Regions from separate parts of the Homo sapiens genome. Here region 2 is linked to region 1. The links come from fine-mapping of genetic effects on gene expression. A gene starts in region 1. The other region holds a variant in brackets. All regions are shown on one strand. Distances are between the middles of the regions. Region 1 holds the start of SH3BP5-AS1 (SH3BP5 antisense RNA 1). Region 2 overlaps SH3BP5 (SH3 domain binding protein 5).

Region 1 (4,369 bases):
GAGCTCAAGTGACTTAGAATTGTCAATACTCACTTTTGATAATCTTTGTATTTCTATAGGAGACAGGGCAGAATTGTCAATACTCACTTTTGATAATCCTTGTATTTCTATAGGAGACAGGGCAGAAGGGGCAGAGAATAAAACAAGTGACAAAGCCAACAACAACCGGGGCCTCAGCAGTAGCAGTGGCAGTGGTGGCAGCAGTAAGAGCCAAAGCAGCACCTCCCCTGAGGGCCAGGCCTTGGAGAACCGGATGAAGCAGCTCTCCCTACAGTGCTCAAAGGGAAGAGATGGAATTATTGCTGACATAAAAATGGTGCAGATTGGCTGATTCATCCTGGGCCCTGGCCGATGTGCATATCAACATTTATACATGGAACTGGAGAACATTGTGCCAATAATCATTTAATATATGCCAAATCTTACACGTCTACTCTAAACTGCTCTAATGAAGTTTCAGTGACCTTGAGGGCTAAAGATTGTTCTTCTGGGTAAGAGCTCTTGGGCTGGTTTTTCAGAGCAGAGTTCTTGTTGTGGGTAGACTGTGACTAGGTTCACAGCCTTTGTGGAACATTCCGTATAACGGCATTGTGGAAGCAATAACTAGTTCCTATGAAAGAACCAGAGCTGGGAAGATGGCTGGGAAGCCAGGCCAAAGTGGGGGCAACAGCTTGCTTCTCTTTCTCTTCTCACCCTCAGTTTGTATGGGAAAATGGAGATGTCCTCTCCACTTTATCCCACGATATCTAAATGAAAAAGAAAGAAAACCCACACACAAAGCAAAAACTCAAGTATTAAGAGCACATATTTTTGACCCAGTGGAGGCTTAAAAAAAAAAAAATCCAAGAACACAATTCATTTTCACCACCTCTGGTGTTCAGAGGGGGCTTTTAAAAAAGCGTGTATGCTGGGATACCCATTAAAACCATTTTCTAGAAGGCTACCATGAGCTGCACTTTTTGGGGTGGGAAAGGTGAATGCCAGTGGGGATGCGGGGGGATGAGGGTAGGAGGGACTTATAGAAGGGGATTTGTGGCTGTGGGGGAGAAGGTTCTACAGCATAAGCCTTATCCTGCCAGCCAAGGGGATTTATTCTAAGAGAAGTGCATGTGAAGAATGGTTGCCACTGTTATTAGATTGACAAGATGTTAATTTCTCTGTAGGTTGTAACTTTAAAAATAAATGAAATTATTTAAGGGTTATGCTGCACTAGTATTCCTTAGAGGAAACAGTTCTTTAAAGTTAGGAAAGGGAGTAGGCAGGCATGTGTTGGCAAAGGCTGTTAATAGTAGTTAAGTGTTAAGACTGCTTTTCTTTAACGTTTTCATGGTAATGCATATTTAGAGCACTGTATTTTTGTCTTGTTAAGAAAATTTAGCATTTCTAAAAGAAAAAAGCAACCCTCTTTCAAACTGTTAATTCTGTCACAGCCTGTATATTTTAGTCATTTGTAAATCTCTTCATACAATAGTGACTTCTTTTTTGACTGATACAGTATCTTAATTACAAGGTTATTTTGTACTTGTCTTAATACACTAAGTGTAATAAAAACGGCTTGAGAAAAGTTTCTCCTTTCTGTGACTTCAAATAAGAACTCCCAGTATTGCCTAAATCTTCTAGGCAACCCTTTTTCCATAAGGAAGAGCATGGAGTGCTGTGGTCACCAGTAATCATTTTCAATTAATTAAGGTCATGAACAGTAATAATTTAAGCCTTGTTTACCAAGGTTTGAATTCTACTTTTGCTGTTGCTAAAGCTGTGGGCAATGAGGAGACACAGTGGCAGATAAAGACGAGGTGGTGACGCTGGAGGAGTGGGCCTCGGCTGCACACTGCAGTCTCGAAGCTTAAGTGTTGCTGTCAGTCAGTTCTCATCCCCAGAGAATTATTTAATTAATTAACTGGGGGGGGTACACTGGGGCATTAGACTTTTAAAAGCTCCCCGAGGGAATTCAAATGTGCATTCAGAGTTGAGAATCAGATGGATTCTTTCTTTTGTGGAAATGTTTTATAATATTGGACTCTTAATCCGCATTTCATTATTAAAGCATGCTGTGGAGAAAAAGTTCTTGGTTGGCCAATCATGAGGTTTAAGTTTCAGAAATAACCCTTTGCAGTATCAAACAAGTGTTTTACCTAGTAGTTAATAAATATTTCATCTAGGAAAGTTCATAGAAGTCCCTTGTGCTATTTAAGAACATTAAACAGCCGGCTGGGCCCAAGGGCTCATGCCTGTAATCCCAGCACTTTGGGAGGCCAAGGCTGGTGGATCACTTGAGCCCAGGAGTTCGAGACCAGCCTGGGCAACATAGTGAAACCCAGTCTTTACCAAAAATACAAAAATTGGCCAGTCTTGTAATTTGGGTCTCAAGCAAGAACACTTAACAGCATACCTGAATTTGACTAGTGACCTTCAGGGTTCATTCAGTTCTCATAAAATCTCCTTACACCCTTTTACCTGTAGTAAAGACACTGAGACTTGCTTGACTTACCATTAGCAAAAACTTCCCTGCAATTGAGGCAATTCTTTTTCCTCCTAGAAGAAACACCATCTGGAAAATAGCCCAAGCTAGGATAAAGTTTTTACAGCAGAGTCAAGTTATACAGTCTAATAACTAGAAATTTCTAGGTACTTCTCGCAGAGAATGAAAGTGGGAAGGAGTTTTCTAACACTGGGGCTTTCTTTCCCTTGTCTTTACAAAAGACAAAGCCTAGGCAGTCAGTCAGTAGCACTAGAGTATTCCTTATGGGCATTAAGAATTTCTCTTGTTTCCTGCCTCAATCCCCCTTTCCCATCAGCCTACCACTTGCTTGTCTCCTACACCAGAAAAGGATGCAGACCACCTTTTGACCAGGGCTCCCTTCTCACACTATCACCTAGTCAAATTTCTAGTTTTACGTAGTCTGCCCCTACTGCTGTCACTGTGGCCTCTTTATCTCCACCACATCTGACATTTAATTATACTCTTCTGGGAATTCTGTTCACTGGGCTTCTTAATCCTCCCCCAACCCTCGTTTTCTTGTATCTCCTGTTAGTCTATGTATTTTTTTCTAAATTAGAAATACTTTCTAAAAAACTTCCCCCAAATCAGTTCTTAACCATCTTTAGTTCACGTGACTCTTGACTTTTTGGGTGATCTCACTTACTATACCACGTTGATTCCAGATCTGGATTTTCTGGGCAATTTAATGTGTCAAAACTTACCTTTCACTGAAGCTATGAGCATCTGTCCATGTGCTGAATTAGAAACTTGAGTCATCCTCTCTAACAATTCAACTGGTCTGTCTGTTATTTAGAACCTCCAAAAGGCCTGGATTGTTTTTCCTCCCTCTACAATGGGTCTAGATCTTGTCCCTCCCTCGACTAGACGGCCGTGACTGTGGGTGCCATTAGACACACACAGCAGCTCAATCAGGGCTCAGGGAAGAAGGCTTGTGAACCCTGGGCAAAATCTTTTAATCTCTTAGGCTTATTTCCTCAATTGTAAGAAGTACAAATAATAGTATCTATACTTTATTCAGCTATTGGGAAGATTAAAAAGAAAAATATACACATTGGGTACATAGTAAACACTCAATGGTCAGTAACCTGTCTTTTGAAGCTTTACCTTCAAGGTCCAAGTTAAAGTATCAATTCTTCAAATACAATTTTTTATATTGGTCCAGCCAAAATTAATCTTTCCCTTATTCATACACTGGTGGCATGTTTTTAGAGCTCTATTATAGAAATCAGTGCCTTTAAGTTGTTCATATATAGGTCTCTTCTAATAAATTTGATGGCAGGGATTAGGTTTTTAGTTTGCATCCTGTACAAGATCTTTACCACAACAGGTTCAAATCATGTGTTCATAATATAGTTCTTATGTTCTGGATTTTTTCTTTTTAAAAAGTAACAGAAAACTTGTTAAATTTGTCCACCTAAAATTAATAGGCTAAAACTGAAAGCATGAAGTATTTACCAAAGTGAAATCTCATTAGTGTAATAATCTACCACTACTCTGTTAAAGAACAGATTTTTGTTGAAGTATATATTTTCATGCAAATAATCTGTTCTCATTTACATGAAACACGACAGATGAAATCTTTCAATAAATCTAACTTAAACTATGCAATATCCGTAAGTATAAACATTTTATTTCAATTTAAGGTAGTAGCAATACAAAATAAGTTTTGATAATTATAAAGTAGAGACAATGAAAAATCCCACCCTATTTTTAGAATTTTAAAATATTGAGCATCATTCTGTCCTGATGGGTTTTTATGTAAAGTGGGAATTTACATGACACCAGTATCTTGGCAATTCACTTTTTTTGAATGCTACATATCCCAATCACCATATATTAAATTCTCTATTTTCTTCAAAGTGCTAT
Region 2 (4,392 bases), 39 kb before region 1:
AGGAAAGGACACTTGTGTACAGTATGAGAGCCAAAACAAGAAGGCAGGGTGGCTTCTTGTTGGACATCAGCTAGAAACGTATGTATCAGGTAGCTCATTTTTTCACCACTCTGTGCATGTCGATGGATGGCCCCAAGAACACTGCAAGTGTTGATTTTGGGGTTACAAATAAAGCTTAGTAAGTAGGCAAATTCACAAATACGGAAGCTGTGAATAATGAGGACTGACTGTATTTGCCAAGAGCCACATGGAGAGGCTTATTTGTTAGTGCGCTGAACCATGTGGCTCTGATGTAGATGGCAAAGGGAAGAAGCTAGGGAGTGTGTCACTGTGTGTGTGTGTGTTGGCGGGAGATGCTGCCCATCAGGAAGGCTTGAGGGGAAAGGCTTGAGGGGAAGGACACACTGTGCACACTCCGAAGCACAAGAGGAAGGGTGGCTGGTAAAGACAGAAGAGCAGAGATCTGAGGGGAGGGGTCAGTGCAGATATGAACTTGGGTAAGGAAGCCAGAGCCTTGGAAAGAGAGGCTTAGGGGAGCTAAAGGACCAGTCAGGAAAGGAACAGCATGGACAGCTGAGGGTGCCTTACGCCTCAGCCTACCCTTCAGACTTGGTTGAGAAGCTGCAAAGTAGCCATGGTAGGCTCTTGAGTTAGGGGGCTTAGGTTGTGTTTGAGAAATTGATGTCCTTACATTAATGGCAGCTCCATTTTTTGCCATTTTTTGAGCGCTAATGATGTATTAGGTGCCACACACACTGCTCTGTGCGGGGGCTGTCATTGTTTCCCTTTTGGCCTTATAGTACGAATGAGGAAACTAGTCTTGGAGCCCAAAGACTGGGCCTTTACATAAACCTTTCCGGTGTTGTGGCCTAATCTAAGAGAATGTGAAGGGAGACTGTAACAGACTTGGTTAATTATCTATCCAGAATGCAGGGAAAATGGGAGTCAGTGGTATGGCGGTGACAGTTTACTGGATGGAAGGGAGGAAGAAAGGAGGATGGAAGGGAGGAGGAAGAAGAGTAATTTCAACACTCTTTGTATACCAGGCACTTTCTAAGTGTTTTACATGCATGAGGGGGAGTTACGTAAACATGCGCGCGCACACACACACACACACACACACACACACACACACACACACTTACTTTTGCAGAAGAAGAAACTGGGGCTTAGAGTCTGTGTTCTCTTAAGGGGCTATCTGCAGCCCTGATTTGTTGAGGCTGTGCTAGGGGCCTGGGTTTGTGGTCATAGGTCTTTTATGTACATTATCTCATTTAATCCTTACAGCGAGTACTTTTTGCAAAGTGGTACTCTTTTCTTTTTCTTGTTTCTTTTCTTTTTTTTTTTTTTTTTTGAGATGGAGACTTGCTCTATCGCCCAGGCTGGAGTGCAGTGGCGTAATCTCGGCTCACTGCAACCTCTGCCTCCCAGGTTGAAGCGATTCTTCTGTCTCAGCCTCCCGAGTAGCTGAGACTACAGGTGCACACCACCACACCAGGCTAATTTTTGTATTTTTAGTAGAGACAGGATTTCGTCATGTTGGCCAGGCTGGTCTCTAACTCCTGACCTCAGATGATCCGCCTGCCTCGGCCTCCCAAAGTGCTGGGATTACAGGTGTGAGCCACTGCGTCCGGCCTGCAAGACGATATTATTTTCATCATACTGAGGGGGAATAATCACTGAGGCTTGGGGACTTTAACATCACAGACCTTGCGAGGACAGGAGTGAAGGTTTAAACCAAGTCTACCTGGTTCTGGCTGGTGCCTGGCACATAGGAGGCATTTATGACTATTTGCAAATCTGAAAGACACTCTGGCACATCTGAGGAGAATGGGCTTTTAGGACTAAAGGCAGTTTTTGAGCTCATTGGTGCAGTTATTTCCCTGCACACCCCTGCCTCTTCTTGGCTAGGGTAACTGAGAAGCTCTTGTTCCGAGAAGCTCTTGTTCCAAGAATCTGGAGTCCTTGGGAACTTTCCCCTCATGGTGCCCTGTTCCTGCTAGGACTTCAGTGTGGCTTTGTCATGCCTTCCTTCTTCCCC[G/A]TCACTTTATCTCTGCAGAGCCACTTGCCTGCCTGGGGGCAGTTCTTGCCACGGGACTTTGGGTGAGGAGGTCTGGCTCAGTGACGTTCTTCCCTGTGGCCCTGGTCACATTCCCCCTGGGTGGCCACAGGCCAGTTCCTGGGAACTGCGTCATTCCTGCTGCCCAAAGTAAGGGCACGTAGTGGAATGACAGGGCATCTGTCTCAAAGCAGAGTTCCTGGAGATTTATGGCAAGAACTGAGCATGGACTCTTAACTCTCCTTCGCCTGAAAGATCACATCCTGCCTGACAGTCTTGGCTGAAGATTCTGGGAAAGAAGCAGCTGCACTTTGGAAACTTGGAATCTTGAATTAGGATGGGGTCAGGAAGGAGATGTGTTGCAGCTTTTGACCCAGGTCAAAGGCTCCTGACACACACAAGTAGATTTTTGGGCTTCTGCCAGAAGGGTTGCACCTCCTGCTTGGCTGGCTCTGCCTCGGGCGTCTGGGGCTGGAGCAGGGAGAGTGTTGCTGATCTTGAGGTTTTCTTTTCTTTTTTCTTTTTAGATGGAATTTCGCTTTTGTTGCCCAGGCTGGGGTGCAATGGTGTGATCTCGGCTCACCACAACCTCCGCCTCCCGGATTCAAGCAATTCTCCTGCTTCAGCCTCCCGAGTAGCTGCGATTACAGGCATGCGCCACCACGCCCAGCTAATTTTGTATTTTTAGTAGAGATGGGGTTTCTCCATGTTGGTCAGGCTGGTCTCAAACTCTTGACCTCAGGTGATCCACCCACCTTGGCCTCCCAAAGTGCTGGGATTACAGGCATGAGCCACCGCGCCTGGCTTAGGTTTTCTTTTCTGGTGATGCCATGAACCATTTGCATTCAACCCCATTCTGTCTGGCAGGTGGCAGGAAGTCCGCGTGGGGGACTGGTTGCAGGCAGGTCTTAGCCAGGAAGCACTGGGCTGGAGGAGCTGCCCTCCATCACCTTGTTAGTTGGGAGGTTTGTCATGGGCAACTCCCTTTTTCTTATCTCCTTTGCTATTCACAGAGGCATGGCTGAGCCCCCCTTGGTGCTGCTGGGCAGGCAGTGTTCTCTGTGAAGCTAACAGGTGTGGTTTGTCACCACAGCATAGTGGTTAGAGGGGAAACAGGGTGTGGAGTTTGGTTCCCTGAAACCATGATGCTCTTCAGATGTTTCCTTCCTTCTTCTCAACTGTACTCTGCTTTCAGTAAAGTGATTGCATGGACATGGATAGCCCCTTCCCCTCTGTAAACCACAGGCATTCCCTGGCAAGAGTGGCAGAGTGATTAATTTTTCAGTGAAAGGAAATCAGAGCATAGGTTGTGTTTCTGCTACGAGTTTTGTCGACACAGGCTGGCCTTTTTATGTTGCCTGGTGACGAGGTTTGGGCCCCGGCTGTGCACTCTTGGTGCACCTTCTGTTCCTTTCCTGACTCAGAGGATGCCCCTGCTTTCCTTCCTTTCTTTTCTACTTCTTCCCCAGCCCTTCCAGTTGTGACTTCTATGAAAATCTACCCTGAAGAATCTGATGAAATTATTCATGCTGAGAAGTAAATGACTGATAAGACTTAGAGATTTATGGTCTCTGGGGCTTCAAGTGGTTCTGACTTACAAACATTCCCATAGCTTGGAATACCCTGCTTCCAACCTGGTGGGACTGCATATTCCCAACTCAGGGTTCATCATGCTGTGGGAACCTCTGCACATGTGAGAGACAGAACTACACCCTTTACACTAAGTGGGAAATGCTTAGAAGTGCAGGCTGTAGGTAGACTTTTCATTTCTACCCAGTGGGATGTCCTTGTGGAGTTTAAGCCAGAAGTAAGATTGGCGGATAGAACATGGGAATACAGAACACCCAGTTAAATTTCAGATTTTTTTTTTTAGGTATAAATTTGTTCTATGCCATATTTGGTACATAAGCTAAAAAAATTGTTTACCTGAAATTCAGATTTAACTGGAAGGCCTATATTTTTATTTGCTAAATCTGGCAGCCCTACCAAAAGGGAATTTGTAGTGTTGATCAGCCAGAGAGAGAAAGTAGTTTTGGGGTCAGCTGCCCTGTCTTGGGGTTCCTGAATCCACAGCATGTGGAGCTGTGGAGGAACCCTGGCTCCCACTTTGTCATTCCTTAGCCTGTAGCCTTGAGTGGGCACAAGTGAACACAGACAGGAGAGTTGAGTGATACTAAAAAGCATGCGAATGCTCATGCTGCTGTTCTAGCTACTCCCAAGCCTGGTGTTTCTGGGACGAAATTGAGTTTCTAAGATAAGGAGCTGGGTCTAGTATTTTTTTCTGTCCACCCCAACCCTCACTAGCTTGGTTTTGCTGAGAGCTGGTCAGCTCC

What was found.
Region 2: its variant is fine-mapped to the expression of SH3BP5-AS1 in tibial artery (GTEx, PIP above 0.99).

What each region holds. Positions count from the first base shown.
Region 1 is chr3:15,252,048-15,256,416 of GRCh38, reverse strand. It overlaps SH3BP5-AS1 (SH3BP5 antisense RNA 1), which reads right to left and starts at 2,233. Exons shown (of 3, transcript NR_046084.1): 1 at 1-2,233. CAPN7 (calpain 7) reads right to left here. Exons shown (of 21, transcript NM_014296.3): 21 at 3,501-4,369. SH3BP5 (SH3 domain binding protein 5) reads left to right here. Exons shown (of 9, transcript NM_004844.5): 9 at 114-2,064. The coding sequence ends at 331.
Region 2 is chr3:15,291,040-15,295,431 of GRCh38, reverse strand. All of the region lies in intron 3 of SH3BP5 (SH3 domain binding protein 5), which reads left to right. Among named protein-coding and RNA genes, the nearest start is that of SH3BP5-AS1, 39 kb to the right of the region's middle. The variant G/A (reference allele first, on the strand shown) is at 2,042.